3 linked regions of the Homo sapiens genome follow. Each later gene encodes a partner of the first gene's protein in a complex. Each region holds a gene or a part of one and is shown in the gene's direction. Other genes may lie near its edges.

What was found. Proteins that work in one complex are often made in the same cells at the same time.
Region 2: LIN54 (region 1) and E2F4 share a complex: the UniProt entries of both Homo sapiens proteins name them as parts of the DREAM complex.
Region 3: LIN54 (region 1) and TFDP1 share a complex: the UniProt entries of both Homo sapiens proteins name them as parts of the DREAM complex.

Annotation. Positions count from the first base shown.
Region 1 is NC_000004.12:83,007,469-83,015,938, reverse strand, and holds the start of LIN54 (protein lin-54 homolog), read left to right. Parts: upstream 1-5,115; 5' UTR 5,116-5,455; intron 5,456-8,470. UniProt on the Homo sapiens protein: Component of the DREAM complex, a multiprotein complex that can both act as a transcription activator or repressor depending on the context. In G0 phase, the complex binds to more than 800 promoters and is required for repression of E2F target genes.
Region 2 is NC_000016.10:67,187,300-67,195,763, forward strand, and holds the start of E2F4 (transcription factor E2F4), read left to right. Parts: upstream 1-4,855; 5' UTR 4,856-4,928; coding exon 4,929-5,063; intron 5,064-5,461; coding exon 5,462-5,571; intron 5,572-5,709; coding exon 5,710-5,871; intron 5,872-6,172; coding exon 6,173-6,216; intron 6,217-7,098; coding exon 7,099-7,160; intron 7,161-7,386; coding exon 7,387-7,681; intron 7,682-8,464. Other genes in the region: EXOC3L1 (exocyst complex component 3-like protein), read right to left, coding at 1-538, 1,422-1,641, 1,721-1,881, 2,332-2,377. UniProt on the Homo sapiens protein: Transcription activator that binds DNA cooperatively with DP proteins through the E2 recognition site, 5'-TTTC[CG]CGC-3' found in the promoter region of a number of genes whose products are involved in cell cycle regulation or in DNA replication.
Region 3 is NC_000013.11:113,636,614-113,642,582, forward strand, and holds the end of TFDP1 (transcription factor Dp-1), read left to right. Parts: coding exon 1-87; intron 88-1,006; coding exon of another isoform or gene 1,007-1,204; coding exon 1,205-1,283; intron 1,284-3,506; coding exon 3,507-3,654; 3' UTR 3,655-4,860; downstream 4,861-5,969. UniProt on the Homo sapiens protein: Can stimulate E2F-dependent transcription.

The DNA of each region.
Region 1 (8,470 bases):
TGATTGTTTTTATTTTCATTTATTTTTATTTTTATTTTTAGACAGAATCTTGCTCTGTCCCAGGCTGGAGTGCAATGGTGTGATCTTAGCTCACTGCAACCTCTGCCTCCCGGATTCAAGCTATTCTCCTGCTTCAGCCTCCCGAGTAGCTGGGATTATAGGCGCCGGCCACCACACCTGGCTAATTTTTATATTTTTAGTGGAGATGGGGTTTCACCATGTTGGCCAGGCTGGTCTTGAACTCCTGACCTCGTGACCCACCTGCCTCGGCCTCTGAAAGTGTTGGGATTACAGGTGTGAGCCACCGCGCCTGGCCCCTATGATTATTATTTTTTTTTATTGTTTATTGTTTTGAGACGGGAGTCTCGCTCTGTCGCCCAGGCTAGAGTGCAGTGGCGCGATCTCGGCTCACTGCAACCTCCGCCTCCTGGGTTCAAGCAATTCTCCTGCCTCAGCCTCCTGAGTAGCTGGGATTACAGGTGCCCGCCACCACGCCCAGCTAATTTTTGTATTTTTAGTAGAGACGGGGTTTCACTATGTTGGTCAGGCTGGTCTCGAACCCCTGACCTTGTGATCCACCTGCTTCGGCCTCCCAAAGGGCTGGGATTACAGGCATGAGCCACTGTGCCTGGCCTGATTATTTTTAATAAGGACCATTTAGTCTCCTTCTTCCTTTATATTATACCTCTTCTTTCATTTTTTCTTATTTAACTTAGCTAGGACACACTCAAAAACGGTAAACAGCTACTATATCCCTGCCTCCTTATTGAGTTTCTGATTTTAAGGTGAAAGCCTCTGCCATTTCACTGAAATGTATGGTGTTGTTCTCTGATGATTATCTTGATCCAATTAAGGAAACATTCTTTTATTTCTAGTTTACTAAGAATTTAAAAAATTCAGGGTGGTTATTGAATGTTATACAATGTATCTCTAGAGACTATCATTTGGTTTTTCTCCTTCAATCTAATAAATTACACTAGTAGATTTCTTAATGTTAAATCACTGTTTCGGTTAAACCATATACTTTGTCATGATGTAAATTCTTTTTACTACCACATTGCTGGAATTTGATAACATCTTTTTTTTTTTTTTTTAAAGAGTCTCACTCTGTTGCCCAGGCTGGAGTGCGGTAGTATGACCTCGGCTCATTGCAAACTCTGCCTCCCGGGTTCAAGTGATTCTCCTGCCTCAGCCTCCTGGGTAGCTGGGACTACAGGCGCATGCCACCACGCCCGGCTAATTTTTGTATTTTTAGTAGAGACAGTGTTTCACCATGTTGGCCAGGCTAGTCTCAAACTCCTGACCTCAGGTGATCCACCTCCCTCAGCCCCGCAAAGTGCCAGGATTACAGGTGTGAGCCACTGCGCCCGGTCTGATAACTTCTTAATTCTTTTTATTTAAAAAAATTTTTTTTGTAGAGATGAAATCTCACTATGTTGCCCAGGCTGGTCTCAAACTCCTGGTCTCAACCCATCCTCCTGCCTCAGTCTTCCAAAGTCCTGCGATTACAGGTGTGAGCCACAGCACCAATAACAACTAAATACTCAATTTTGCCTTCATAACAAAATCATAGCAAGAAAGGAAGTTTCCCTTCTCTTTTTTGGGTACTGTTTGTCTTGGGTTTTAGTATAAGAGTTATGCTGCCTTGTGGAATAAACTGGGAAAGGGTCTCCTTTTTTTGAGATATTTTGGTCTCTCTAAAATCTAGCCAGTTTTGGGTACCCCATCTCATTCTTTTCTTCCTTCCAGTGGTGCCCCAACAGCACCATCAATCATTTTACCATGAGGATTTCTCACACTAGCTCTCAAGGTTCCTCATAAAGTGGGCTCACAATGCTGATCTCCAACAAAGCCTTTGTGTCATTCAACTTTATCACATTACTTACACATGTCACAGACCTTCCCATTTTCAAGGCTTTGCTAATTTCATGACATTTGCCTTGTTAAATCCTGACTATTAGTGTTTGGGCTGGTACTGGGTGTTGATTATGGCACAAGGGAACTAACATTTCAGGCAGAGACTGTGTACCTGCTTAACACCCTTCATTTTATTTAACCATCAGAATCCTGGGAAGTTTTGTTATTTTTATTTGCTGGATAGGAAAATAAACGTTATACAATATACACTAATAAACGGAGGTGCCATTAAATACCAGTACTGCTTGATTCCAAAGTGACTGCTGCCTCCCCTACACTGTTTCACCTCCTCCATTATGTTCCCGAGGTAGTCTCTCATGCTGACCTGTATGTCCTCCGTACTCCATTAGCAAATTATACACTGTATCGCACCATCTTACATTTACACTCTTGTATTTTCTATTTTCGTATATGTAGTGCTTGTCGCACTCACAGCAGTTGATAATAATCTCTCAGAATAATTTTTTTTTCCCCTCAGAATGATCTGTCAGCGTCTGTTCATCCGACTCCGTATTTGGATATCATATAAATCGCGGGAAAAAATAAAAGGTGATTAAATACAAATAATTTTGACTGTGTTAGTCTTAGCTGCGTGTTGCAAGAAATGCAAAACGTCTTTCAAAATAAGTTTAACTCTCAATGAATCTCCCTGTGGCTTTTTAGCGACACTGCAAAACTAGTGCCTAAAAACACAGTGACTTGGCATTTGTGACTACTGATCACCTCCTCACTCAAGCACATCAAACAGCGGGATATCCTGGAAGTCGCACCTACAACCCGGACTTCCTAACAAGGAAAGCTAGACGAAGGGACGGTCTCTCCCAACCGCAGCGCGATGCGGGTCCTCCCCCCATCAGCTTCAGTCCGATGGAACATTCCGTGCGATCGCTTTGACCGGGCGCCACTCGGCGTCACGTGGAACTGGAGCGCCCTGGCGGAGCCCGGCGGAATGACGCGGGCTTGGGTTGCCAAGGGGAGGGACGAGGCGCCGCGGAAGAGGCGGAGCGAAGGAAGCCGGCCGTGGGGCGGGGTGCGGAGCGCAGGGGCGGGCAGAGAGGGGCGCGCGGGCGGGGAGGGCCCAGCGTATTATGGGATGCGGCGGTGGAATGGGGCTGGGCGCGTGATTTTGAACAAACCCTGGTCTGTGTCTCGGAGGCGCCGCCGCCGCCGCTGCTGCTGGGAGCCCAGGGAGCGCCGCGCGACCAGGAGGCGGCGGCGCCGCCGGCTTTGGTGAGTGTCAGCCCCCGGGATGGGGGCTCCTGGGCGGGCTGGCGGGAAGGGGGAACCGGCCCCCGCTGCGAGTGCCTGCGCGGGCGGAGAGCGCTGGACCGCTCCCTCCGGGAGCCCGGGCCGGTGGGCCTTGGCGGGGAGCGGGAACCCGCCAGCGGGGTCCGCCGCGCCCCTTCCCTGAAGCTGGGTTGCGGGGGGCGAAGGATCCTTGGGGCTCGGTCTCTTCCCGTCGGCTCCCGAGAGGGTGGCTGTCACCCGGCAGGGCCAGCGCTCGGCCAGCCGCCTGCCCGGCGGTCTGGAGTAAGGGCTCCTGCGGCTGTTGACACGCACACTGCGCGACCCAACAAGCCACCCGTGGCGGCCCCAGGTTTCTGGGAACCGGTTTTGCTGCTGTGTCATTTTGTGCCAGTCCCTCCTCTCCCTACTGCCCGCCGCCGCGTTCTTCCTATGCCCCTTTGTACAGGCTCTTGTTCGTGCGTGTCCGTTTTCCTCGCGAAGCCCACCAGCCAAATGTCATAATGTTCCCGAGGTGCACGGGGGAAGGGAGCGGGCCGGGACTTAGCTTGGCCAGCAACGGTAAACAACCAAGCAGAGTGCGGATGGACGGGGCCGTCAGTGGGGAAATGAAGTTTAAAGATGAAGTAATTGAGAACACTTTATACTCTCAGCATCTGGTAGTCTGCATATAAAAACAGCAATTGGGGTGGGTGGTGGACAGCCCTTGTTGAAGGCTGAATCTACCGACTTTTATATGGAGTTGCCATTGAAACAAGGTAGGGAAATGAAATGACTTTTTCAACTTCAACTTCAACCTTACTCTTCCTACACTAACTTAGACAGTAGAGTGGCCCTGTTCGCAGCCTTGAAATTCAGTTTGCCCAGAGCTTATGTTGTGGTTGAATGATACAGAATTCAGCTTTTGGATGGTTAACTCTTTCTAAAATTGACAAAGGCAGCCAGTTTCCTTTTTTTTTTTTTTTAATGCTGATCTCTTCAGAAGCCTTGCAGCTTATGTTTTGTTATTTTTTAAATGATTAAGAATTACCTCTGTTCTCTTTTGGTTACTTATTCAACTGACTGATGACAAGAGCTGGTAACTCTTACCTACCTAGTAGGTAGCTCTAGGATCTTGTTCTGAAGCAAGCTGTTTATTTTTACTGTACAGAACAAATATATCAGCAGCAGATGGTTTTTTTTTAATTTGATGACTTAGATCCTAAAAAAACATTTGGCAAATAATTTTAGCTAAGAGTTATATTTTCAATATTTTAGAAATCGATCATTCATGAATGTTTCTACAATTAGTTCAATCATTTCAAATCTAGTTGCGCTTTGACGTCTTAAACCGATGACAGATTGGAAGTCGCAGTGTTCATGGACAGAAATGACCAGATAAATTAAGTTGGAGAGGAAGATAGCTCAGAACTTTATTTTTTTAAATTAGATATTTTGACCACTTCATCTGCATGAGGATTGCTGCCTGTAATTGACAAAGGTGTCAAAGGTCGAACATGCATATGGAAATAGCTCATCCTGTCAAAGTAGTTCTGCGGGTGGGGTAAAATGTCAAAGTTGGTGAATGACATTAAAGGTCTTTCACAGTGTTTTTAGTGCCTGAGATAGCCACAGTGAATGAAACGCATTCCACCATCTCTCTCAAGTTGCTGCTCTGAAAATGAAAGAGTTTGGGTTCTTTATTGTCCTTATGCCACCCTCCGCATGGCTTTTGGTCTTGCAAACAAAAATATGCCGGACTTGGGACCCCGCAGGTGGCGCGACTTCCTTTGGCGTCCCTGCGGGGGCCCGTGCTCCGCCCGGGGGTGAAAGGTCTCGGCGTAGCCCGTGTGCACTTGCACGGCCCTTGTGCGTTTGAAGGTTGGCGGGGCGGCGGGAGGCTTCCCCGGATATGTGGGTGTGCGCCTCCCGGGTGGGGCGGGCGGGGAGGGGAGGAGGAGGAAGGGGGAGGTTACTGGTGGTGGCGGCGGCGGCGGCGGCCCGGGCTCCGGCTGTCGGGGAAGCTGCTGAGCTGTGATGGTGATGACGAGGTGAAAATGGCGGATCTTTCGAAATACAATCCCGGCCCCTGACATACCAGAGGCGGCGGCGACGGCGACGTCGCCACCCCGGCTCCCTTCTCGGTCCCCGGGTACCCTGGAGCGCTCCAGTTTGGACAAACTGGGAAAGGAAGCTGCTGGCCAGAGCTATCGTGCACGGGCAAAACAAGCCCCGCCGGGGCTCGGGATTGCCCAGGACCTTCTGGAGCCCCTACCTCGGAGCCCGAGGGAGGAGAAAGCGGCAGCCGCTGGAGGTAGAGGAGGATGGGGTACCCGAGGGCTTCTCTGTCCGGAGATCTCTTTATTTGGGGGGATGGGGGTGGGTGGGGAAAGAATTGCGCGGTGGATCAAGGAATGACTTGTCCGGAGTGCGAAGAATCAGTAGCCTCGTCATGACATCAACATTATTCTTTGAGTGTTAAGAGGGCTCCAGTTTGCTCTTATACCTAAGGCTGCTGCTGAGGCCTAGAGGAACCGCTAGCACTTATCATGATTTCCTGATATAATGTTTAAAACAGCCACTCTGGCGGGTGTTGCTTTGATGGTGTTCAGCAGTTCTTGGGGTTGTACGTTTCTTTAGGGAGGCAGAGCATTGGCATTTTATCTGCATTTAAGATCTGTGTCTTAGATCCTAGTCTGTAACTTGTTGGGTTGTGGATGTTCACATTTTATAGAATAGGGACCAGTTTTGTAAGAATTAGAAAAAAAATTTTTAATGCTCTGTTATCCTTAGAGTAACTAACCTCTTTGCCCCTGCCATTTGGCATATAACAATTGAGATACTCTCAGTTATATTTTATACTCATGCTTTTCAGGGAAGTTCTTCTCTATACTCACCCTCCTGCCCCCGCCAACCTAGTTCATGAATTCAGAGAGTAAAGTTATGAAAAATTTTGCTGTAGATTTTATAATGCAAATGAAATACAGCTCTAGGAGCTCTCTTTTGGTCCTGAGTTTTACCTTCATTGTTAAGAAGGAGAGTTGCGATGGGGTGATGCAAGCATTTGTTGTGAGTACATTAAGTTGGGAAAAATAAATTGAGACCTCTGTTATTTCTAAATCACTAAATGCTGGAGTGATTAGCCTAGCCCTTTGTTTAGAGAGCTGGATTGATTGACTATAACAGCCACTGTTTTATTAGGTTATCTGAAGACCCATGTTAAGTTTTAGGTTATGCTGAAAGATCCGTAAGGAGTCTGTCTCCTTGCACACAACACTAGTGTTACAGAAAAGTTACATGTGAATCAAATTTTTAGGCTGGGCAAAAAAATTTTTATACATTAATTTGGACCCTATGCTTTTCCCCCAGCTTTTTTGGGTCAATGACATTGAGTGTATAATGAACAGAAGGATTAGTATTGAGGAATGCCCATGGGTAATGTTTATGATTAGCCCTAAATTTCCGTATTCAAATTGTCTACAGAGAGTATATGTGATATTATTTCCTTATTCAAATTGTCTACAAAGAGTATATGTAACACACTGTGCCATAGTGTGTCATATATCACAAATTTTGTAGTTTACTTAGAGGGGAAATATTTTGTGTGAATAGGTGTGTATAGTTTGTAGGTCTGGCTTTCACTTACTAGAAGAATAAGAGACCCAAAAAAATTTTTAGGAGAAATACCTTAGAGGTACTCAGAAGGTTTAATGATGACGATAATGATTATTTTTTAAAAATAATTTGTCTGATGCTGTATTATTCAGTAGGTATTTGGTTTTGTCTTTTTAAAATTACAGTTTTTATGTTGCAGTTATTTGACCCATGCCTTATAGCTGCTGACTCAGTAGTAAGACTAAGAATTTTAAAAATAATTAAAATAGGGAGATTAAAAAGCTTTTTCATTGGCTTTCTTTTAATCACAGAGGGCTATTGTCTCTTTGTGATTCTTTGTGATTGTCTTTAAAGACCAGTTTTCAGATTGTCCTGGTTAGAACAATTGTGTATTAATAATTAAAAGTGTGTTAGAAATGAAGCAAGAATTATACCACCAGAGATAGTCCAGTGTTCATTTTTTGGGGGAAGAGTATTATAGATTTTCACTACTTTTTCTTTATTTTTTTCCAAGGCAGAGTTTCACTCTGTCGCCCAGGCTAGAGTGCAGTGGCGCAGGCTAGAGTGCAGTGGCGCGATCTTGGCTCCCTGCAAGCTCCGCGTCCTGGGTTCACGCCATTCTCCTGCCTCAGCCCCCTGAGTAGCTGGGACTACAGGCGCCCGCCACCACGCCGGGCTAATTTTATTTGTATTTTTAGTAGAGACGGGGTTTCACCATGTTAGCCAGGAAGGTCTCCATCTCCTGACCTCGTGATCCACCCACCTCGGCCTCCCAAAGTGCTGGGATTACAGGCGTGAGCCACTGCGCCCGGCCGATTTTCACTACTTTTTCAAACATTATTATTGGGTGTCTATTAGGTGTCATATAGTATGCTAGGGATAGTGGATAAAATAACCTCAATATCATTACTTCAGGGAACTTTCAATTTAAGAATCACTGGAGGTGAAGTTGGAAGGATCAATTCAGTGGGGTCTTGCTGCAGAAGGCCTTAAGAGTTACAGAAAATGTAACTTAGTGTAGGATAATGACAATCTCAGAGATATACTTCAGAAGATAAATCTTGTACATGTAGCTTTTATGTAGAATGCATTGTAGGTAAGGGGAGATGGAGGTAAAAACACCATAGTAGGCTTCAGGAGTTGGAGATTTAGACACAATTGGTTACAGGAGGATAGAGTCATGGTGAAGGTGTAATCTGCATGATATATGACAGATTAATATTTCTATGGAAAGAGAGATGTCAAAGATAATACAATTGTAAGCCCTGGTGTTTGATAGAATTTTTTTTTTTTTAAATGAGATGGGTTCTCACTCTGTCACCCAGGTTAGGGTGCAGTGGATCTCAGCTCACTGCAACCTCCGCCTCCCAGGCTCAAGTGATAATCCCACCTTAGCCTGGTGAGTAGCTGGGACCACAGGCTTGGGCCCCCACGCTCGGTTAATTTTTTGTATTTTTGGTAGAGACAGGGTTTCACCATGTTGGCCAGGCTGGTCTCAAACTCCTGAGCTCAGGCGATCTACCTGCCTCACCCTCCCAAAGTGTTGAGGTTACAGGCGTTAGCCACCACGCCTGGCCATTTAGTAGACTATCGGATGCCGTAAAACCACAGAGAAATCAGGAGGAGAAGCTAATTTAGATAAACAGGAAAATAACTTTGAGTTACAGCATACCTCATAACTATCTTCACAGTAACCCTATAAGTAAATGAAGCT
Region 2 (8,464 bases), on another chromosome or scaffold:
TTCTGCAGGCTGCGGCGCAAACCACTATGCAGCGTGTGGGCCCATAGCTGGACCACGTTGTACTGTGGCGGGCAGCAAGGCGCTACTAGTGCCTCAGCTGTGGCCAACTCGACTGGCAGGGCCACTCGCAGAGCCTCCAGCCACCCTGGTAGGGCCCCTGGTGCAGGCAGCAGAGGTGACCCAAAGTGGGCCTGCTCCAGGCCCTCCTGTAGTGCCCTCAGACAGCGCTGACGCCAGTCCCGGGGGACCTGGCCCAGGGGGGTTGTTCGTCCAGTCTCCACCTCCGCCACACGCACAGCAGCCACCAACAGGGCTGGGTCCTCCCGTGCCAGCTTCCCTGCGGCCCCTGCAGCTGCTTCCACAGCCTGGCCCAGTGCCTCGAACAGAAGGTCCAGCCCCTGGAAGACTGGCAACTCCAGGCCCCCCAGGGGTGCCCACGTATCCTCTCGCAGCTGCTCCAGCTCCCGAAGGCTCACATATGCCTCCAAGAACTGTTGGCCATCAATCAGAGTCTGTGTGTGGGACACTGCAGCCGGCACTAATGAGAGTGAAAAGGAGACGGCCCTGGGTCTCAGCCTTCCCACCGCCTCAATGTGTACAGCAGGGGATACTGAGGCCCAGGGCGGGGGTGATGCATAAAATATTTAACAACCAGTAGAGTAAGCTGGGCACAGTGGCTCATGCCTGTAATCCCAGCACTTCGGGAGGCCAACGTGGGTGAATCACTTGAGGTCAGGAGTTTGAGACCAGCCCGGCCAACATGGTGAAATCCCATCTCTACTAAAAATACAAAAATTAGCCAGGCATGGTGGCACATGCCTGTAATCCCAGCTACTGGGGAGGCTGAGGCAGGAGGATTGCTTGAACCTGGGATATGGAGGTTGCAGTGAGCCGAGATCACACCACTGCACTCCAGCCTGGGTGACAGAGTGAGACTCTGTTTCAAAAACAAAACAAAACAAAAAATGAACAAAAAACCATAAATAAATAAATAAATAACCAGTAGAGTACTGGCCAATCTAAGAGGATCTTGGCAATGTCCTAAAGACCTGGTGGGCCAGAGGTCAACCCATGAACTCATGGAATATGAGGAAGCTGAGGATCCTGGAGGGAAGGCAGGGGAAATCGGGGGGTCCTGCCAGTACTCGCTCAGCCACTCTGTTAGGGAAGAGTTTGAATATACTGATAACCAGGTGGCCAGAGTCACATGACTGGGTGTCTGTCCTGACTCAAGCATCCCACACGTGGGAATCCCAGGATGAGCTGCCTCATAGGCCATGGGAAGCCCGGGCTACTGTCTGGGAGGTCCCTGGTGTGCTGCTCTATGCAGTTCCCCATCTAGTGCCCCAGCCCCTTGATTAGGGATGGGTGTTTGTGGACTGACTATTGGAGGCTGAGGCCCAGGGTCCCTGCATGCTCACCTGCCCGCAGCCGAGGCAGCAGGTGAGACAGGGCCTGCAGTTGCTTGTGCTGGGCAACCCGCTCCCGTAGGGGCTCTAGAGTCTGTAAGGCCTGGGACATGCCCTGGAGCAACCCACGGGCCTGGCTCAGGGCCTCCCGGGTTCCCTGCACCACCTCAATGGCCTGGGCCAGCTGCCACACACCAGTCTGCACGCCTTCCAGGTATGACTGCATCACTGACTGTGGAAAGATGGAGCCATGAGGCTGGGCCAGCCCTGCAGCACAGTCCCAGCACCCGCACCCCCTGCCCCATGCCCACCTTGAGGCGCGATTCCAGGGAGCAGGTACGCTGCACCTCGCGGCTGCGGTACTGGCCTAGCCTGGCCAGCTGCTCCGGCCGGTAGAAGATGCCTGAGGCCCACTTGAGCGCTGCACCCCGGGCCAGCTGCTCTGCCCGCTCCTGCTCTGGCCACTCAGGTCCTGGGAAGGAAGAGCCTGGGCAGCCGTGTAGTCAGGGAGGAGGGCCCAACGACCCCAGTCCCAGCTTTCTTATTTATTTATTTATTTATTTATTTGTTTGTTTATTTGTTTATTGAGATGGAGTCTCGCTCTGTTGCCCAGGCTGGAGTGCAGTGGTGCAATCTCGGGTCCCTGTAACCTCCGCCTCCCGGGTTCAAGCGATTCTCCTGCCTCAGTCTCCCGAGGAGCTGGGATTACAGGCGCGTGCCATCACGCCCAGCTAGTTTTTGTATTTTTAGTAGAGACGGGGTTTCACTATGTTGGCCAGGTTGGTTTGGAGCTCCTGACCTCAGGTCATCTGCCCATCTTGACCTCCCAAAGTGTTGGGATTACAGGCGTGAGCCACTGCGCCCAGCCAGTCCCATCTTTGTTGCCATCATTCCTCCCCTAGTCCACCCAAAAGGTTCATACCAGGGGACAACGCCGGCTGCATCTCATCCTTGGCTGCTGAGTCCATTGTGGGCCTGGAGGAGCCAGAGCTGAGGTGGGCCCGGGGCAAGCAGGCAGAGTAGATGCCCCTGTGAGCTGCTGCCTCTGTCTAAGCCCTTCTGAGAGGAGGAAGGAGGTTCTTCCCGGCCCCCTCGGGAAGTGAGAGGGAGCGGGTGTGATGCGGAGGGCACCTGGGAGGCTTTGCCTGCTAGGTTTCCCAGTCGTGCCCCTGCAGATGTCAAGCGAGACAGAGTGGGCACAGGCCTCCACTGGACCCTGGTCCTGCTCTGAGCTGCACAGGACAGTTTGGTACAGAACTTACCAGATTTGATCAGGCGTCCAGTTCTCCCTCCAAAAATGACCTTGGCCTTGAGAACAGCCCTCTCCCCAATGCAGCTGGGCACGCCTGCCACTTGCTCACAGGGCCTGGGCAACTCCAGCTGACTCCAGCGTGCAGCTGAATTCCTCTCCCCAAGGAAGTCTCTCTCCCACTCCCCACCCAGAAGCCCCTTCTTCCCACCGAGGCTCCTCCCTCCCCAAGGCCATCAACAGAAAGGAAGGAAGCTGAGTCTCTGGCATTTTATTCCCAACAGGAAAGAGTGTCTGCACAGAGGGTGGGGACAGCTGGGCGACACTTCCCTGAGGGGCGGGGGGGTGGGGTGTACTTGTACTCAACCAGTCTTGACCAGCCTACCCAGAACCTCTTAGTGCTCAGGAGAGGAGATAGGGATTTGCTAGACTTGGCCTCAACCTGGGGTGGTGGGCAGAGTGTGCAGATATGGATGCAGACGACATCAACAGCACAGGATGAAAACTGTGTTGGCCAGCCTCTGAGGAGGATGTGTACCTCTGCGGAGGAGTGAGAGGTGGCAGGCTCTTGTGAAGAGGGGTGTGGTGGGGGGTGGTAGGAGAGGGTCATGAAAGCTGTGTTTATCTTTTTTGTTTTAGACAGGGTCTTGATCTGTCACCAAGGCTGGAGTACAGTGGCACCACCATAGCTCACTGCAGCCTTCTGGGCTCAAGCGATCTGCCTGCCTCAGCCTCCCAAAGTGTTGGGAGATTACAGGCGTGAGTCACCGCAACTGGGCAGCTGTGTTTATCTTGAGAGTTATAGGGAGCCAGGGAAGGGACTATAAGGTGGTAATTATTTAGTGGATGTTCAGTCCACCACCCAAATCCACCCTTCAGGACAGAAGTGCTCATTCTCCAGCTGCCAGGAGTGTAGGCTACTGAGATCACACCACTGAGTCTCTCAGTCAATATTGGGGTGCAAAAGCATGGTACCATCGTGTGAACATGAACCCTTCAGAAGTGCTACCCCAATTTCAGAGATCCTAGTGGGATAGGCTGAGGCCTATAATATAATTGCATCTGCTCAATTCTGCTTGTCTTAATCCCTTAAAGGTGTGGATCCTGACCAGGTGCGGTGGCTCACACCGGTCATCCCAGCATTCTGGGAGGCTGAGGTGGGAGGATCTCTTGAGCCCACGAGTTCAAGACTAGCCTGGGCAATATAGTGAGACCCACATCTCTAAAAAACTAAAAATAAATGAGCCGGGCATGGTGGTGCATGCCTGTGGTCCCAGCTACTTGGGAGGCTGAGGTGGGAGAATCGCTTGGGCCCAGGAAGCTGAGACGGCATTGATCTTGCCACTGCACTCCGGCCTGGGCAACAGAGTGAGACCCTGTCTCAAAAAAAAAAAGTGTGGATCCCCAACAAACTTGCTGCAAAACCCTATCTCGAGTCCCATTTCCCAGAGGACCTGATCTAAAAGAAACAATAATAAATAGTAACAATGTTAAAAGTTACAAAATGACCGTATCACACATTCCTGCATGCCAGGAATGACTGAGTGCTTTACTGATATTTACACATAGGTAAACACGTTTGCATTGGCTGAAGTGTTCATAACCCCATAGTCTCTGAGCACTGTACTGTGAGGACAAGACGAGCGAAAGATGAGGCTAGGACCATGGGTGGAACAAGGTGGACAAGGTAGATATAGTTAGTGCTTGCTGTTTGGCAGGAAGTGAGGGATAGGAATAGATGGGGTGACCCCAAGACAGTAGGGCAGCCTTTAGGAACAGGTTTGATGTGGCAGTAAAATGAGTTTGAAATATATAAAAGAATAAATAAAGAGAAAAAAATGGAAAAGGAACAGGTTTGAGGGAGCAGATTGGATTAGTCAGGTAGTGTGGTCTCCTCTCCCAAGATGGGGACTAGGCAGAGTTAGTGATGTTGGGGCAGATTGGCAAGGAAAGTTCCGATGGCGTCCCCTTCTCTACTGCCAGGGCGGCCCACTGACGCCCTTCTCATTCCTCCCCAACTTCATCCCAACTCCCCGGTCTACCCAGGTAGTTTTCGTCTTATTCGGAGGCTGGACATTTGCTACTGGTCCCTGAAGTTTTGCGGCTGCACCCACAGACAGCAATAGCGCCACGTTCCCTGGAAGGCGCACGGGACGGAAGCGGAAGCAGTAACGCTGGCTCCGGCTGCCCGGCGGCCAGGAACGGAAGCGGAAGTGGCGGCGGCGCCGGCCTGGCCTGGCCTGGCTGAGGGGAGGCGGCGGGCGGGCGCGATGGCGGAGGCCGGGCCACAGGCGCCGCCGCCCCCGGGCACTCCAAGCCGGCACGAAAAGAGCCTGGGACTGCTCACCACCAAGTTCGTGTCCCTTCTGCAGGAGGCCAAGGACGGCGTGCTTGACCTCAAGCTGGTGCGGCCTGGGCTAAGGGGAGACAAGGGAGGCTGGTGGACCAGGCCTGGGCCGGTAGCGGGAACCCCGGGGGCGGCCCAGCTGGGTCCTCCGAGAGCCGGCCGCCATCGTGTGCTTTCTCACAGGAGAGAAGCCGGGGGATGTTTCATTCATTCGGCCGAGGCCATCGAGCTACAGCTATGGGCCAGGCTCGGGCTGCAGGTGTTCGTCCTCGTGGCCCTTCCTGGCTGGCGAGGAGAAGAGCTGCCTATGGGACAGAGCTGCGGTCCTGAGCTGCAGTAGCGCCTGGGAGGCACTACAGGGTTGGAATCCAGATTACTCCCTTCCCAGACCACGTCTCAGGGTGGCTGGGGGTACACCCCAGAGTGGGGCTGAGCATTCTCCATTCTCTCTGCCAGGCAGCTGACACCCTAGCTGTACGCCAGAAGCGGCGGATTTACGACATTACCAATGTTTTGGAAGGTATCGGGCTAATCGAGAAAAAGTCCAAGAACAGCATCCAGTGGAAGTGAGTGGGCATAGTGGGAGGGTAGTAGAGTCTCCCACCCAGAAGTGTCGGGCGTGGGGTGGAGGGTGCCGAAGAAGGCAGGGGCCATGGGACCCAGAGTTCTCAGCAGTCCCTCTCAGCCCCACTCCCTGGGCTCAGGGGTGTGGGGCCTGGCTGCAATACCCGGGAGATTGCTGACAAACTGATTGAGCTCAAGGCAGAGATCGAGGAGCTGCAGCAGCGGGAGCAAGAACTAGACCAGCACAAGGTGTGGGTGCAGCAGAGCATCCGGAACGTCACAGAGGACGTGCAGAACAGCTGATATCCTCCTGGCGGTCCCTGCTGGGGGGAGTGGGCAAGGGGCCCTCTGGTTCAACTTGCCCTGAGTCCTGTTCCTCTTGGGAGTTTGTCTTATAGCCACTGGCCATGGCCCAGCCTCAGGCTCCCTCCTCAGAGCCCCTCCCCTTCCACTCTTAGCCTGTGATCCCTCCCCCGGTGGACCTGAGTCCCCAGAACGGTCTCTGAGGGCCTGTGTGTCAGACCTTAGCTAAAGAATTGGGTCTTTTCTGTAGTCTGCCATCTGTCACCATAGGGCATCAGCCATTCTCCTTAACCCTCACACTTTGGCCTACGTCACTCATGAGGACATCTGCAGATGCTTTGCTGGTGAGCAGAGCCTGGGTAGGGGTAAGGGGGTGGGCTGGGCTCAGCCAAAGTCCTGAGCACTGGGCTCAGTGTCTTAGGAGAGTTCTGTCTCTTAAGAGGGTTTCTGGGGCCTGCTCAGAGAGGAACCAGGCAGGGTAAGTCTTCTGTCTGAGTGTCACTGGGACCCTGTGGAGGTCAGCTATACCAAAAGGGTACAGAAATTCTGGAGTGGGTCCCTGGGTCTGTTCCCATCTCTACTGTTTCCTGGATTTGGCTTCTTGGGTATGATAGAGGCACAAGGGGGAGAGAGGGAGAGAGGATATGTGTGTATTTGCTTGTGTGCAGGCTCTTACATGCAGGGCATGGGGGTGCCCACTTCCAACTTGTTAGTTTAGTTGCATTGTGAATACAGGATCTGTTCCTTTTTTTTTCTTTTTAAGAGATGGGCTCTTGCTGTGTTGCCCAGGCTGGTCTTGAACTCCTGAGCTCAAGCTGTCTTCCCTCCTCAACCCCCTAAAGTGCTGGGATTATGGGTGTGAGCCACTGTGCCCCGCTGATGTGTTTCTTCTCCATCTTGTATGCTCCTGACTGGTCATGGGAAAGGGATGTTGGCCTTGGCTAGAACACCCTCACCTAGGGATCAGCCATCGGTAGAGGAATGAGGTGCCTGTGGCCAGTGATCTTTCACTCCACATAATTGAACCCAGATTTCCTGGTTACTGACCCTGGGCTCTCAGGAAGAGAAGAGCTTTAGCTCTGCCTGGCCACTATGGGGGATGGGTGAGGCCCACTGTCTAGTTCCTCAGGGACCGTGATCTCCTGCCTTGCTCCAAAAGGCAGGCACCTCTGTTCCCAGCTCAGATTGAGCCCATGGGCTCTGACCCATTCTCCATGTCATTCTAGGAGATACCCTCTTGGCCATCCGGGCCCCATCAGGCACCAGCCTGGAGGTGCCCATCCCAGAGGTGGGTGCTTAGCCCAGGCAGGCGGGGTCAGCTGAGGGCGGGTGCTGGCTGTGGAGCCTGATAAGTCCTGGGTGGGGCAAGTAGGGGGAGGCCTGGAGTTTGGGGTTATCTAGGAGGATGGGCATCCTGGGTGGGAGAGGACACTGTGGTCCTGACCCGGAGTCGGGCAGGAGCCAAGCCTGCTTACAATTCTACCCATCTCCCATCCCTTACCACCCATCTCTAGGGTCTCAATGGGCAGAAGAAGTACCAGATTCACCTGAAGAGTGTGAGTGGTCCCATTGAGGTTCTGCTGGTGAACAAGGAGGCATGGAGCTCACCCCCTGTGGCTGTGCCTGTGCCACCACCTGAAGATTTGCTCCAGAGCCCATCTGCTGTTTCTACACCTCCACCTCTGCCCAAGCCTGCCCTAGCCCAGTCCCAGGAAGCCTCACGTCCAAATAGTCCTCAGCTCACTCCCACTGCTGTCCCTGGCAGTGCAGAAGTCCAGGGAATGGCTGGCCCAGCAGCTGAGATCACAGGTGAGGCACCATGGGAGCTTGTGACAGAGGCCCAAGAGGTAGTATCTCTGTGTTGTGGAACACCATGCTCAGAGTTGGAAGAGACTCTTCAGGTTGGGGATTGTCCTTTTCCTGACCACCTAGCCTTCCCTTGCTATGGTAATGAATGAGCCTTTTTTGTTTTTGTTTTTGAGACGGAGTCTCACTGTGTCCCCCAGGCTGGAGTGTGCAATGGCGCGATCTTGGCTCACTGCAACCTCTGCCTCCCAAGCTCAAGAAATTTTCCTGCCTTAGCCTCCTGAGTAGCTGGGATTACAGGCGCCCACCATGCGCAGCTAATTCTCGTACTTCTAATAGAGATGGGGTTTCACCATGTTGGCCAGGCTGGTTTCGAACTCCTGACCTCAAATGATCTGCCTGCCTCGGCCTCCTGTAGTGCTGGGATTACAGGCTTGAACCACCATGCCTGCCTGAATGGGCCCTTTTTAACAGGGAACCTCTGACTGTGGGAAGAGCCATTGCTGGTGGCAGTTTTCTCCCCCAGATCCACATCCACTGGTGTCTCAATTGCCCTGGTAGCCCGTCTTGAAGTATGGCCACAGCAGACATGTTGACCACGAGTCTTCTTCTGTAGGTCTTGTGTCCCTGTCTCCTGTGGTGACTAATTTCAGGTTACTTCCTCTGGGGGTGACTGGCAATGCCTAATTCTCCTTGGGTCTGGGAACCAGGCTTGTGGTCCTCCTGTGTCTGGGTTCCAGCACAGCCAGTTTCAACGACCTCTTCCTGACCTTGTATGACTGGGTT
Region 3 (5,969 bases), on another chromosome or scaffold:
GCGGGCTGGAGTCGGGGAGCTGCTCTGCCGAAGACCTTAAAATGGCCAGAAGTCTGGTCCCCAAGGCTCTGGAGCCATACGTGACAGGTCAGCAATGCCCAGACAACCTGGCGTGGCTGTGTGAGGAATGGCCCCCAGCCTCCGACGGTGCCCTCCCCTCCCGGCTCGGGATGTGTCTTGCTGAGATCAGGCCCACGTGTGTAGGGCCAGGAGCAAAGACAAAGGGGCTGTGAGGGGGATGAGGGCAGGGGTGTGGCTGGGGTGGGGTCCAGCCAGTGCCGTGACCCACTGGATATGGGGGCCTTGAGTCCACAGGTGGCTCGTGTGGATTTCCTATGTGGTTTGTGTGAGGAGGTGCTAAGTCAGGATTTTACCCTCCAAGTAGGCCCAGAAGTAGAAGTTGAGATTCTTTGAGAAGTGCAGTTGGATTGCTGATCCCACCCACTGATGGTAGCTGATTGGTCACTAGGGCAAAGTCACCAAGAAAAAGCATTTCAGAGTCATTGGCGTCCTGCTCCGGAGGGCCGGGAGCACAGGAGCTTTTGTTGAAGGAGCTTTTTTTCTGTTCTGGTGAATTCTTTCCTTGGGGGCCGTAGGGTCCCAGCCACTGACAGCAGGATGGCTTTAAGGTGAGAAATTGTGAAGGTGTCATATCTGCTGATCCTTCTCTTGTTAGCCTAAACTTGGGGTGTAGATTTATTCCCTGAGAGGGTCAGAGATTCCTCCCTGAGCTCTTAGACTGCCCCAGATCTTGTGAAAATCTGGCTGGTCCATGTTGTCAGGTGACAGTGGGCTCTGGCCGCCCACGTGGGCTGGGCCCTGACCCCGGCCTCTGTCCCGTGCTTCATGGAGCTGCCAGGATGGGCTGTGGGAAGAGGGTTTCAGCTTGACACTTTGATTCGGTTCCGTTTCACGATGGGTATGATACTGAGGCAGCAGCACACGTGTGCCGTTTGTAAGTCAGTGTGTGCAGGTATTTATTGCAAGGCTGTTCTTGCCTTTTTAGAGAAGACAGGCTTATGTGACTGCACAGCGGGATGTCCTGCTCCGTGGCGCAGTGTGGAAAATACTGGACAAGCGAAGGATATCCGGAAGCTTCTACAGCCGTCTGTCCTGTGGAACTGCGCGTCATTTTGTTGGTTGCCTGTGCGTCTTGTGTTGTTTCTGTTTCATGACCATTCGCTTATTTTCTTTCCCTTTTCAGAAATGGCTCAGGGAACTGTTGGAGGCGTGTTCATCACGACGGCAGGTTCCACGTCTAACGGCACAAGGTTCTCTGCCAGGTGACAGTCGTTGAGGGTGTGGGAGAGGCGTCATCTGGGCCTCCCCCGGGGTCCAGGGGCCAAGGCAGGGCAGCCGTCTCAGGTGTGGCCATCAGGTCTGTGGCTGCTCTGACGTGGCTTGTCTGTCCAGGCAGTGGGGCCCCGCTGGCTTTCCCTGTGTGGAGAGCTGCTTTTCTTAGTTGGTTTCTGCTCACTAAAAACTGAAAGTAATACATGGTGGTTTTTTTTTCATAGTATCACCTAATAAGTAAAGTAGGAATGAAAACCACCCAAATCCTCCTGTCCCCGGCAGCCCAAGTAACAGCAAGTATTTCCAGGTTTTTTTTCCCATTTTTCAGAACGCGTCTGCGGTCACAGCGCACGTATTTTTCAGAACGCGTCTGCGGTCTGGGCGCAAGTAGTTTTCAGAACGTGTCTGCGATCACAGCACACATTTTTCAGAACGCATCTGCGGTCATGGTGCATGTGTTTTTCAGAATGCATCTATGGTCATAGCGCATGTATTTTTCAGAACGTCTGCCATCACGGCGCACGTGTTTTTCAGAACGCGTCTGCGGTCTCGGCGCACGTGCTGCGATCACAGTGCATGTATTTTTGCGAACGCGTCTGTGATTATGGTACACGTATTTTTCAGAACGCGTCTGCAATCACAGCGCACGTATTTTTCAGAACGCGTCTGTGGTCACAGCACACATATTTTGTTCCGTGCATTTTTCAGCTTACATTTTATTGTATGAATATATATTGTTTCTATGCTATTAAAGGGCCTTTATTTAAATAAATTTGTATTTAATCTTTGACCTGCAATCCCACAGAGTAGAATGGTGTCCCTAGGTATTGATCTTAGTGCTTCAAAGATAAATATAACTTTTATGGTAAATATTAACAAAACAATGATTTTATTAACTTTTATATTGCATTGTGATACAATATATAGTATTACTTTATATTAATCTTAAGTGTTAATAAAATCTTTAATTAGAAATACAAGAACTCAGTAACCTATGGGTCCGGGTAACAGGGCTCGACATAGTGAGTTTCAGTGTGCTTGAGCCTGCGTTGGGATGTGCTGTGGCCATGAGATGTAACAGGTGTGTCGGGCACGTGTAGCTTCCTGGCCAGCTCTGGAAGTGCAAAGCCAGCCTTGGCCTCCTCACCTGTAAGGTGAGACTGGTGATTGATGAGTTACTGATCTGTGGCAAGGATCAGTGAGGTGGTGATGGAAGAAAGGACTTTGGTGACAAGCTTTTGACAGAGGCCGGTTCTCCTTCTGTTGTAGCTATGTGTGAACGTGTGGCGGTCAGTCTGTAAACATGTTTAATGCTGCTTCTTCCATGAGGTGGGATGTGGGTATTTTTAGGACTTTTATCATCACATAATCCTTTTTATGGATGTGATTCTTCAGACTTGTCAGTTTTTCATAACAATGGAAACAAAGCTATTACCATTTCTTACGAAATACCGATTTTCATAGTGGCATGATGAGACATTTTATACAAGTACCTCATGAAAGGACATCTAGGTAGTTCCCAGTTAGAATAAAAACTGCAGTGAGCAGCTTTACAGCTGAATTTCTCGCCATTTCTGACTTGTTTCCAAGATACAGAATTACTTCATCAAAAGGCACATTAACACATTTTTATTGTAGTGTTAATAAATACCATTAAAATGTATTAAAATATGTACATATGGTTTTATGTTAATTGAAAACATCTTTAAACATTAGGAACGTAGTGAGCTCTGGTTGGTGGTAGGTTTTTGTGGTGCTGCCAGCCCTCTGGGTTCTCAGTCCCCGCTGCCAGATTCGACCCACGCTCTGGACTCCATCCTGTCCTGCCCCGGGCTCTCTTTTTTCCTGTTGCTGGTTATGAGTGAAAGTCCCGGAGGGAGGGATCTAATGGTTTTACAGTTTGTTCCCTCTGGGGCACTGCTCCTGATGGAATGATGAGTGAGGGAGAGGCAGCGTGTGGCTCTGCTCAGCCTCCTGTTTCTGTCGTTATGGGTTCCAGGAGACAGGGCCAGAAGAGAACCAGACAGAGATGGAGTAAGTGCCAGAGCGTTGGCGTGCTGTAGTGCAGACACTCAGCCTCCCCGTTCTGTTTGTGTGACTGACAAAACCCACACCTGTGGGGCACAGCCTGTCATTTGACCACAAGCCCTGAGGCGGGGGGAGGCTGGGTGGGCCGCCTGCACTGACGGCGCCATCCGCCTCCTGCCTTGCAGTGACCTGACCAACGGTGCAGATGGGATGCTGGCCACAAGCTCCAATGGGTCTCAGTACAGCGGCTCCAGGGTGGAGACTCCGGTGTCCTACGTCGGGGAGGACGACGAGGAGGACGATGACTTCAACGAGAATGACGAGGACGACTGACGTCCTCCCCACTTCAGATTCGGCTTCAGGAAAACGTTTAGCGAAAAGAAACTTTTTTTTTAATGTGGGTTTTCTGTTTCCTTTTGGCCTACTCCCAAGAAGATATTGGTAAGCTATTGAATTTAGATATGCACCTCTGATAAGCAAGGATTGTTTCCCGTAGGATTAGGACGTGCTGTGGATGTGTGTTTTGATACCAGTGTGCTGATGCAGAGCGTTTATTTACTTGTTAGGATTTTGTGTTTTCATTTGCTATTTTTCTTTAAGTGCAGAGTTCATTTTTGCCCCTGAAAAGTTTTTGCTGAGTTTGCTGAAGAAATTGTATTTCAACCACATCCATGAAAATAAAACACCTCCTGTTGTGGATGGTGAGCCCCTGATGCCGCTTATTTGCCGTGAGTTTGGACGGCACCCCTGCTGGCGGATAGCAAGACTCTGTGGAGTTTGTTCAGTGGTACGGTGTCCAAGCAAACAGCAGAATGCAACTTTCTAAACAGCCCCAAGCAAACAGCAGAATTCAACTTTTTAAACAATAAACACCATCAACCTTATTGACTTTATTGTCCCTTAAATTATATTGACTGTTGTGATTCCATCAAGTTTGTACACTCTTTTCTCTCCCTGTTTTGCAGCAACAAATTGCGAAGTGCTTTTGTTTGTTTGTTTTCGTTTGGTTAAAGCTTATTGCCATGCTGGTGCGGCTATGGAGACTGTCTGGAAGGCTTGGAATGGTTTATTGCTTATGGTAAAATTTGCCTGATTTCTTACAGGCAGCGTTTGGAAACCTTTTATTATATAGTTGTTTACATACTTATAAGTCTATCATTTAAAGACATGTACTGAAACAAATGTATTTGTTTCATAAGCATCTTCCTGTAATCTATTATAAAATTGAAATTAAATATAGAGAATGTTTTAACAATTTTTTAACTCAAAATTTGTCAATCATTTTTAATAGTTCTTTTTTTATAAAAAGAAAAAGGAATTTAAGGACAGGCAGTAGTCTCTTTTAAAATTTATTCACAAAACCCATTAACTGCACAGTTGCTATTAGCTGCCTGTTCTAAAACGATAGTCTTTTTATTGAAACACAAATAAACTTTTCTGTAATATTTTATGGTATATAAAGAGACTTTAATTGTTTGACTTGTTTAACTTGGCACTGTTAGTTTTTATTAATAAAACGCGCATGGGCATTTTAAACAAGCTGTGTTTCTCTAATTCAGGATTATTATCTAGAAATTTGTCTGTCTTGTTGGTTTTACTTTATACTTGAGTGAGAAAGTAGGTTGTTAGGCCCAGACGCGGTGGGCCCGGGTGGTCCCTGTGGGTGCAAACCCCACCACCACATGTTGTCTGAGGCACATCCTCCGGGAGCCCACCCTGAAAAGGTGGAAGGTGGCCAAGGGTGGAGGTCTTGGTGGACACAGGGCAAAGAGGCACCTTCCTTTTCGGTGCCTGTGGTGCAGAGAAAGATAAGCCAAGTTCCTTGGCCTTTTTTCACAATGAAAATTGAGACAAAATTTAAAAGTTTGACTTTGAGAACAAGAATAAGATTGAGAGGATTCTGGGAAGATGGTGGAATAGGGAGCACCAGGAATCTGGCTGCCCAGGTAGATGTCTACCTCGCGGGCAGGATCTGCCTGATGCAGCTGTTCTGTAACTACGGAATCTACTGAAGGCTTAAAGCTTTCAAGGGAGGCTTGGTCAGCACATTGCAGTTAATTTTGGTCCATTTCAGCTTTCTACCCCGACCTCTGTTCCTTCATTTTTCTCTTTCCCCTTTTGGGAGCCAGACATTGAAGACTAGGACGTATAAAAACAACTGTGTTGTATATATGGGGCTGCCCAGGGAGAGGCTCAGAAAAGACCCGAGAAGACCTTACGTTTACACCTCAGGCTGAACCATGGCACAGGTACAGCCTAGAGCTGTCAAAAAAGCAATAAACACAGCAATAACAAAAATGGCAAATCCGGGGGAACAGGAGACTTCTTTTCAGAGTTGTACCACAGTAATAGATTCAGATGTCCAGTTTTCAACAAACAGTGACAAGGCATACCAAGAAATGGCAAAGTATGGCCCATTTAAAGGGAAAAAAATAAAAACAAACTGTCCTTGAAAAGGATCTGTTGGCAGGTACACTAGACAAATACTTTTAAATAACTGTGTTAAAGATGCTCACGGAAGCCAAAGAACATGTGCAGAAAGTCAAGAGAATGAAAATAGAACCAAATGCAAGGATCATAATGAGGCAGACAACCTGAAAAACCAACAAGAAATTCTGTAGCTGAAAAGTACAGCAACTGAAATGAAA